Homo sapiens: one gene and its partners. The gene in region 1 interacts genetically with each later gene. Each region holds a gene or a part of one and is shown in the gene's direction. Other genes may lie near its edges. The genes, in order: CSTF3, METAP2 and COPS4.

What was found.
Region 2: changes in CSTF3 (region 1) and METAP2 together harm fitness more than expected from each alone (negative genetic interaction), as found in Homo sapiens cells (one large-scale study listed by BioGRID).
Region 3: changes in CSTF3 (region 1) and COPS4 together harm fitness more than expected from each alone (negative genetic interaction), as found in Homo sapiens cells (one large-scale study listed by BioGRID).

What each region holds. Positions count from the first base shown.
Region 1 is NC_000011.10:33,084,061-33,086,417, reverse strand, and holds the end of CSTF3 (cleavage stimulation factor subunit 3), read left to right. Parts: intron 1-428; coding exon 429-523; intron 524-644; coding exon 645-705; intron 706-1,128; coding exon 1,129-1,331; 3' UTR 1,332-1,834; downstream 1,835-2,357. UniProt on the Homo sapiens protein: One of the multiple factors required for polyadenylation and 3'-end cleavage of mammalian pre-mRNAs.
Region 2 is NC_000012.12:95,505,014-95,508,671, forward strand, and holds part of METAP2 (methionine aminopeptidase 2), read left to right. Parts: intron 1-3,658. UniProt on the Homo sapiens protein: Cotranslationally removes the N-terminal methionine from nascent proteins. The N-terminal methionine is often cleaved when the second residue in the primary sequence is small and uncharged (Met-Ala-, Cys, Gly, Pro, Ser, Thr, or Val).
Region 3 is NC_000004.12:83,038,127-83,041,784, forward strand, and holds part of COPS4 (COP9 signalosome complex subunit 4), read left to right. Parts: intron 1-3,658. UniProt on the Homo sapiens protein: Component of the COP9 signalosome complex (CSN), a complex involved in various cellular and developmental processes.

The sequences.
Region 1 (2,357 bases):
TGAACAGCTGGTGGAAACTTTCTTCACTGATAGATTTGGTTTCTTTACTTAGGAATGGGTTAGTAGCCTCTCTAGATTCTTTTTGAACAAGGCCCTTCTGATTAAATACACTGTTGAATAATTGACTTGAAACAGGATTGCTAAACAAATGACTTGTGTAACTCAGAAACACTCTTTGACAAAAACTGACTTTAGTTCAGTCCCTGGTTGTCTTACACAAAGTCACTTGTCTACTTCTCTGCCTCCCAGTGGCCACGGCATTGAGACTGCTGTCTCACCCACTTTGGTTTGGTAAAGCCCTAGAAGTATTTTCAGTGTCCAGAACAAAGCAGCAGACATGGAAGATCTTTATGTGCAAGTCACTTGATTTTAGCTCTGTGTAGAAATTCTTCCATTCCACTTGATTCATACTTTTCTTTTTCTCACAGCTCCAGGTTTACACCCTGTACCTGGTGGAGTGTTCCCAGTCCCTCCTGCAGCTGTTGTTTTAATGAAACTTCTCCCTCCTCCTATCTGTTTCCAGGTTTGTTCACTTATTTTCATGGTAGATACTGGCTCTGTGGGTCATAGTAATTGTGTATAAAGTTACTACTACTTTAACTTGTCAGATTACTGGGATTAAAATTTATTCATGTCAAAAATAGGGTCCTTTTGTACAAGTGGATGAACTGATGGAAATTTTCCGAAGATGCAAGATACCAAATAGTAAGTAACAGAAGCTCCATTTCAGAGTGTCATTCCACGTTGTTGTCTCATAGGCAGTAGAGATTATTATTCTCTGCCACTGAAGTTTTCGAAACCAGCCAGCCAATTTGAAGTGCAGTGAAACCCAGGAGTTACCCAAACCCTCTTTGGCAGAGAAAGGCTTATTCACATTGAATTCCACTAAGTAAAATGTCATAAAACTTTATCTTTTCTATTCATGTGAACATGCACTATCAGGCTTGGCTTATGAAAATTATTAGTTTTAACAGCAGCTTTTGTCTTTTTCTTTAATTATTTAGTATCAGTAGTACTATCCCATGTTTTGCTAAAATAGTAGGCTATGAAATAAAGTATCCACAGTTGAACATACATACCCTTTCATAGTGGAATATGTTTTTACGTTTTGTTGTTTTGTTTTAATAGCTGTTGAGGAAGCTGTGAGGATCATTACTGGTGGGGCCCCAGAGCTAGCTGTAGAAGGCAACGGCCCCGTGGAAAGTAATGCAGTACTCACCAAGGCCGTCAAAAGGCCCAACGAGGATTCAGATGAAGATGAAGAAAAGGGAGCCGTTGTCCCCCCTGTTCATGACATTTACAGAGCACGGCAGCAGAAGCGGATTCGGTAGGGTTTTAAACGCCTCTGCAGAAAACTCCTGTCCAGGATTCCTTTTGCCTCAAGTGGTATGTTTAAAAGAGACAACGCTTTGTTACAAGGTTCTTGGAAACAAAGTTGTATTGTCATTGGTGCCTCTATCACATGGTTCTTGAGAAAAAACAAACCAACCTGTGTGAATTTTAGAATACGGAACAGACCTATGCTCTAAGCAAAATTAGGTTTTCAAAAATGTGAGAACAGTACAAAGTGGCAGAACCACATTTTGTTCCCTCTTCAAGGGTGTCTTGTATGTGCCGCTTGAAGATTTGTGAGTTTTTCAACAGTTTTATTTTAAAAACTGGATGGCTTATGATTGTAAAGCATTTTATCACATTTTCTGAAAACAATTGTTCTTGGTTTGCTTATGTAGAGTCCTGCCTTATTGTTTGTTTTTATTTATGGCAGAATGTATGAAATCCGTTTTGTAGTTTCAAATTTTAAAAGTCCTTTAAAAAATAAAAGGATTCAGAAACATCATGCTTCCTCTGCTTCTTTCAGATTTTATTTACAATAACTACTTATGTTATTTATCCAATACCATTTAAAAATAAATGTCAGGACAAGGAAAAGTCATCTTGTATTTACTGAATGTATTAATCACATACTCTTTCCTGGTCTGTCTTTTTTGGTGCTAACTAAAAACATTTTTAAGAGGCAAATTAAACATTTTAGAAATCCTCAAATATGAATGCATTTGCTCCCCAGTAAATCTGAGGCAGATTAAGATCCTGTTAATACTTTTGTCTCTCTTGAAAGCAACCTAAGTGTGGAAATTCCTTTAACCACCTGCTGTCTTGTTCTCACATAGAGTATCTCTTATCTAAAATACTTGGGACCAGAAGTGTTCAGGATTTTGGATTTGTTCAGATTTCAGAATATTTGCATCATACTTACCAGTTCACCATCCCTAATACAAGAGTACAAATTCCACAAAACTCCACTAAGCATTTTCTTTGTGCATCATGTTGGCACCGAAAAGGTTTTGGATTTTGGAACA
Region 2 (3,658 bases), on another chromosome or scaffold:
ATCCTCCTCCCTCATCTGTGCTCATTATTCTCTGTGATCCTGCTGTAATAACTTCCTTATAGACTATTTTCTATATTTCCTTTAACAGAATTCTGTCTCTCTTTGTAGACTGTGAGTGGAGACTCTCATGTTGTTTTCTTGCCTCTTAGTAAATTCACACCATTCAGCATTCTTTGCATTTCCTGTTGCCCATTATGTGTTTCTACCAAGAGCAGAAGTGATTCTTCCTCTGGAACCTGACCGTGCCTTCTATATAGACAGTTACCACCAACGTAACAGTCCTCTTTCATGTCTAAATACTGAAATTTATTACCAGACTTAAACTTTTTTTTGAGACAGTCTCTCGCTCTGTTGCTCAGGCTGGGATGCAATGATGCAATCTCGGCTCACTGCAACCTTTGCCTCCTGGGTTCAAGCGATTCTGCCTCAGCCTCCTCATTAGCTGGGATTACAGGTGCCCACCACCACGCCCGGCCAAATTTTTTTTTTTGAGATGGAGTCTTGCTCTGTCACCCAGGCTGGAGTGCAGTGGCACGATCTCGGCTCACTGCAACCTTTGCCTCCCAGGTTCGAGCCATTCAAGCCATTCTCCTACCTCAGCCTCCTGAGTAGCTGAGATTACAGACGTGTGCCACCATAGTTGGCTGCTTTTTGTATTTTTAGTAGAGGCGGGGTTTTGTCATGTTGGCCAGGCTGGTCTCGAACTCCAGACCTCAGGTGATCCGCCCACCTCGGCCTCCCGAAGTGCTGGGATTACAGGCATGAGCCACCGTGCCCAACTCTTTTTTTAGACAGAGTCTGCCAGACGTGGTGGCTCACGCCTGTAATCCCAAAACTTTGGGAGGCCAAAGTGGGTGGGTCACCTGAGGTCAGGAGTTTGAGACCAGCCTGGCCAACATGGTAAAACCCCGTCTCTACTAAATACAAAAAAAAAATAGCCAGGCGTGATGGCACACACCTGTAATCTCAGCTACTCGGGAGGCTGAGGCAGGAGAATCACTTGAAGCCAGGAGGCAGAGGTTGCAGTGAGTCAAGATTGCACCATTGCACTCCAGCCTGGGCGACAGAGTGAGACTTCGTCTGGGGAAAAAAATAAAAAAGAGTCTTCCTCTGTTGTCCAGGCTGGAGTGCAGTGGCACGGTTGCAGCCCAACCCCCTTGCTCAAGCACTCGGTGGAGTGCGCTCAGCTTCCCGAGTAGCTGGGACTACAGATGTACAGTATCATACCTGGCTAATTTTTGTATTTTTTAAAAAATATTTATTTTTATTTCTAATATATATGCTTTTTTTTTTTTTTTTTTGAGACGCAATCTCACTCTGTCGCCCAGGCTAGAGTGCAGTGGCGCAATCTTGGTTCACGGCAACCTCCGCTTCCCGGGTTCAAGCGATTCTTCTGCCTCAGCCTCTCAAGTAGCTGGGATTACAGGCATGCGCCACTACACCCAGCTAATTTATTTTTGTATTTTTAGTAGAGACGGGGTTTCACTATATTTGCCAGGATGGTCTCAATCTCTTGACCTCATGATCCGCCCGCCTCGGCTTCCCACAGTGCTGGGATTACAGGCATGAGTCACCGTGCCCAGCCTATATATGTTTTTTGATATCAAGATATTCTTCCATTTCATTGTTCTTCAAGGTTTCATTTCCCTTCCTCCTGCCTAGACCCTGTGTTGGCAGCTTTAATTCTTCTCTCATCTATATCTTTAACTTCTTTGTTATTTGATTTTCAGATATTCTCTTTAAGATCTCTAATCCTGTGAACACAAGTGCAAAGCAGAATACTTATTTATTTATTTATTTATTTATTTATTTATTGAGACAGAGTCTTACTCGTTCTGTCACCCAGGCTGGAGAGCAGTGGTGCAGTCTTGGATCACTATAAGCTCAGCCTCCCGAGTAGTTGGGATTACGGGTGTGTGTCATCATGCTGGCTAATTTTTGGACTTTTTTTTTTAGTGGAGATGGGGCTTCATCATGTTGGCCAGATCAGGCGATCTGCCCACCTTGGCCTCCTAAAGTGCTGGGATTACAGGCGTGAGCCACTGTACCCGGCCCAGAATACTCTTGATGTTACTCACACTTAGGTAGGAGGTGTGGGATAATGAAGAAAACACACTTTGGGGTTCAGGCAGTTTTTACTTGGAGTCTTAGATAAATCTGTAACCTGAATACCCAAGTTTCTTGACTGTAGTAGGGTTAATGGTATCTAGTTTATTTTGAGAAATGTAAATTGTGTGATAGTGCCTGGAATTTATTAAGTATTCAACAAATATTTGTCATTCTGTCCCCTTCTCACCCCAATTCTGGGATTAGTGCCACAAATACAGTGCTTATTCAGGCTCTTCCAAATCGCTCTTCGCATCCAGGAAATTACTTACCTGATGAGAAAAATAGCCAAACAAGCCTAACACTCTTTAACATTTTTTCCACGTTGCATAAAGAACATGGCAAAATACCAGGATTGGCAAATGCCGGGATTTGCCCATCTTCTCCCTATTCTTATGTTTTTATCTCTGTTCTTCAAGGAAGAAATATTCTGTCTTCTATACAGTATTTTCTTTAAAATTTTTTTAAATTGTTAGCTCAAACACTGCGTTAAGGATCTTCTTTTCAGTGTTAATCCTCCACCTCCTTTGAGATACCACCTTATTACGCCTTTTCTCTACATACTCAGCCTTTCCCCTAGTGGCTCCTCTCAGTGTGAAAGCACATGTGGAGGAGAATAAAAATCATAGCATTAGATAACCTTCCATGATTCTCATGATTTTTTTTTTTTTTTTGAGAGAGACTTTTGCTCTTGTTGCCCAGGCTGGAGTACAATGGTGCGCGATCTCGGCTCATCACAACCTCCGCCTCCCAGGTTCAAGCAGTTCTCCTGCCTCAGCCTCCCGAGTAGCTGGGATTACATGCGCCACCACGCCCAGCAATTTTTTTTTTTTTTTTTTTTTTAGTAGATGTGGTGTTTCTCCATGTTGGTCAGGCGGTCTTGAACTCCCAACCTTAGGTGATCTGCCTGCCTCGGCCTCCCAAAGTCTGGGATTACAGGCGTGAGGCACCGCACCCAGCCGATTCACATATTCTACTTTTGGCTTTTACTTACTGTTATGTGAAATTTTTACAATTTATTTTTACATTAAGACATGATTTAAATTTACTATGTTCCTTAGTAAGGGTAAACATACTTTTCTTTGTATCCTAGCCAAAGCCATAAGGAAAGCAAAAGATTTTTAAAGGCTAGAATTTAGAAGATCTCATTTCCAGTGTGCTTTTCTTTGGAAAATGTTTTGTCCAGTTCTTTAAATAGCTTAGAACCAGTTTTAGGAGTTGCTGCTTCTATTAACACTTTATGAGCTCCCCAGAAGCAAGATTCTTAACCCAAAGAAAGCTGAGATTAAGAGCATAAATGCCAAGTTAATTTGAGGAATTTATGGGACTAGAACATGGGCCTTCTGATTTCTAGGTTCACTGCTACAAATGAACAGAATCTATTTCCAAATTCGTGAGTCTTATGTCAACTTGGAGTACACACTGTAGCAGTCTGCTTGGGGGACTACCTCTAGAGTTAGTTATTTCTCTTTTTTGAGAATTTGCTGAAATTTTTGTAAATTCCAACACTAGCCAACATATACCAATGTCTTCTCTTTTTCCTTTCATTTTC
Region 3 (3,658 bases), on another chromosome or scaffold:
TGAGGATAGCCTCAAAGGCCCCTTCTAACTCAGATTCTGATTCTCTCTTTGTTGTCCCAAACACAACAGTTTTAGTGGTTTTCATCTCTAGAGTGAAAGTCAATAACATCTAGAGTTTACTGTGCGAAGCACAACATTACTTACATTTAAAAATCCTTAACAAGTAGGAGTAGGTGATAGTAGTGATATTATTTACATTATAATAAGAGAAAACCAAAGTACAGAGTTGAAATACCTTGCTCTGAGGTCACACAGCTAGTGGTGAAGCTAGAAGACAGTCCATATCTGCTTGCCTATGAGCCCTTAACTCTAAACAAACACATCTACCTTTTTGGCCTTATTTTCACAAAAAAAAATTGACTACACTTCAGATAGTGATTATTTTTGCCTAGAATGCCTGTCTTCCTACTGTTATTAAATTGAAATACTTAGAATGTTTAAAGATCAACCCCATCCAATGATTTCTCTCTCCTAAAAATTATATTAGCACTTACCTGTTTTTTTTGTTTGTTTGTTTGTTTTGTTTTGTTTTGAGATGGAGTTTCACTCTTGTTGCCTAGGCTGGAGTGCAGTGGCGCGATCTCGGCTCACTGCAACCTCTGCCTCCCGGGTTCAACCGATTCTTCTGCCTCAGCCTCCCAAGTAGCTGGGACTACAGGTGCATGCCACCACACCCGACTACTTTTTTTTGTATTTTTAGTAGAGACAGGGTTTCACCATGTTGGCCAGGATGGTCTCGATCTTTTGACCTTGTGATCCACCTGCCTTGGCCTCCCAAAGTGCTGGGATTACAGGCGTGAGCCACCGCGCCTGGCCAGCACTTACCTGTTTTTAAGATTTTGTCTTTAATTTTGTGTAGCTTCATTATGATATGTCTGTGGATTTGTTTTTACTTTTCTATGTCAGTTACCCTTTGCTGTGAAATAAACCCCAAAACTTAGGGCTTAAAACAACAGTCACTTATTTAGCTTATAATTCTGTAGGTTGGTAGTTTGGATTGGGCCCAGCTGTATGGTTCTTTTCTGCTCCACGTGGTCTTGGTTCCACATGGGCTCCCATGTGGGTCTATAGTTAGCTGCCAGCCAGGCCAGGTAGGCAGCTCTGCTTCTGTGGATTGGCTGGCTTGTTGGCTGGGGCAATATAGTTGACTGGGCTACATATCTCATTAGCCAGTATGTTAGTCTGAGCCTGTTCATGTGACAGCAGCAGGGTTCCAAAAGACAAACACATACAAGGCCTCTCGAGGTCTGGGCTCAGAACTAGCACTTCATTTCTACCACGTTTTATTGGTTAACCCCAGATTCAAGGGGTAGGGAAATAAACTCTACCTTTTGATATGAAGAGCTACAAAGTTGTATTGTAAAGGGACATGGGTACTGGGAGTGAAATTATATTGTGGCCGTTTTTTGTAAGCACTCTGTCACATTATCCTGGTTAAGCTTCACTGGGTTTCCTGAATCAATGGATTAAATCATTTCATCAGTCTTGAGATGTCTTCAGTTATATCTCTTTATTTTATTTTAGAGACAGGGTCTTGCTCTGTTGCCCTGGCTTGAGTGCAGTAGAGAGATCATGGCTTACTACAGCCTTAACATGCTTGGCTCAAGCAATCTTCTCGCCTTAGCCTCCTGAGTAGCTGGGACTATAGGCACGTGACACCATGCCTGGCTAATTTAAAAACATTTTTTTTGGTACAGATGGGGTCTCCCTATGTTGCCCAGGCAGGTCTCGAACTCCTGGGCTCAAGGGATTCTCCTGCCTCGGCCTACAAAAGTGTTGGGATTACAGGTGTGGGCTACTGTGCTTGGCCTGTATCTCTTTAAATGTTGCCTCTGCCCCATTCTGTTTCTCCTCTAGGCTCCGGTGAAATCCCTGTCAGGCCCACTGACTATAACCTCTAGGCCTCTTACTCTGTCTTTTCCATTTCAATGCTTTATTCTGGATTAGTTCTTCAGGCCTACCTTCTAGTTTATCACTTCTTCAACTGTGTTTAATCTGCCGTTAAGTACTCCATTGAGTTTCTAAGTTGGGTTGTATTTTTTAGCTCTGTAATTTCTGGTGGTTCTTTTTTCCAATGATACTTTTTATGGCTCCTGGTCTGTTGCTGAAACTTTAAAGCTTGTCTTTATCCCCATGAACATTGTAAGCATAATTGTATCATGCTCTTTCTGATAACTCCAGTCAGTATTTGACGTTTTGGTTGTTGCGATTGTCTGTTGCTTTTGTTGATTCTAGAGAGAAATTTCATTACCTGAGGGTGCTAACAGTGTATAATCAAGGCTTCAGAATTTTTTTGGTTTACCTGGGTGGTCTTGGGATAGAATTTGTAACCTTACTTCCAAAGTGTGTGTCTCCTCCTTTGGCAGAATATGGAACTTCCATTCCCATTTGTGCAGCTCTATTAGTCTGCCAGAAATGGCAGCTTGCTTCTCAGTGCTTCCAGCAGATTCGCAGTGAGCCCACCTTCTCCTCCCTACAAGAAGTGCCACTCTACCTCTCAGCCATCTTTCCACAGTCAGCAAATGCCTTTAGACAGAATATATGGTTTATCTTATTTTCCTCATTTTACCTTTCTTGTTAGGATTTTATGCAATTACATTTTTTTTTTCATTTCTTTCAGCTTTTTATGTTGGCTTTTTTTTTTTTTTTTTTGAGGGAGGGTTGGTCCAGTCGTTTAGTTCACCATTACTGTAAGTGGAAGATCTGTTAATACCTACCTTTACCACCCATTGTGATCTTAAATGATGACTGTGGTACATTTTCATGCTTTATTTATCTCCAGATTCCTTTCAAGTGCCAAGAAATTAAGAATCAACATACTGAATTTGGTTCATATACATTAAAGATGCTCAATTCACTGATGATAAATGGATAGGAGAGATGTATGATGCCTTAGTAATAAAACTTATTTTCCTCCATAAGTTTTTTTTTTTTGTTTTTTGTTTTTTTTTTTTGAGATGGAATCTCACTCTGTCGCCCAGGCTGGAGTGCAGTGGCATGATCTTGGCTTACTGCAATCTCCACCTCCCGGGTTCAAGCGATTCTTCTGGCTCAGCCTCCTGAGTAGCTGGGACTACAGGCACACGCCACCACGCCCGGCTAATTTTTGTGTTTTTAGTAGAGACAGAGTTTCACCATGTTGGGCAGGCTGGTCTTGAACTCCTGACCTCAGGTGATCCGCCCACCTCAGCCTCCCAAAGTGCTGAGATTACAGGCGTGAGCCACTGCGCCCGGCCAAATTTTTTTAAGGAAGAAAATATTTGGCACTTGTCACATTCTCCATATCAGTCACATTTCTCTTTGTATACTGAGTACTCATATAAAAAGCTATTATTATCTACGAAGCCTTATTTGACAAATCTAGTCCATTTTTGTTTTACTCTCACTCTGTCACAGGCTGGAGTACAGTGGCTCACTGCAGCCTCCACCTCCTGGGTTCAAGTGATTTTCCTGCCTCAGCCTCCCGTGTAGCTGGGACTTACAGTTGTGCACCATCACACTCGGCTAATTTTTGTATTTTTAGTAGAGATGGGGTTTCTCCGTGTTGGCCAGGCTGGTCTTGAACTCCTGGCCTCAAGCGATCGTCTTCCTTGGCCTCCCAAAGTGCTGGGATTGCAGGTGTGAGCCACTTCACCTGGCCTTACTCTCTTTTGAGTTA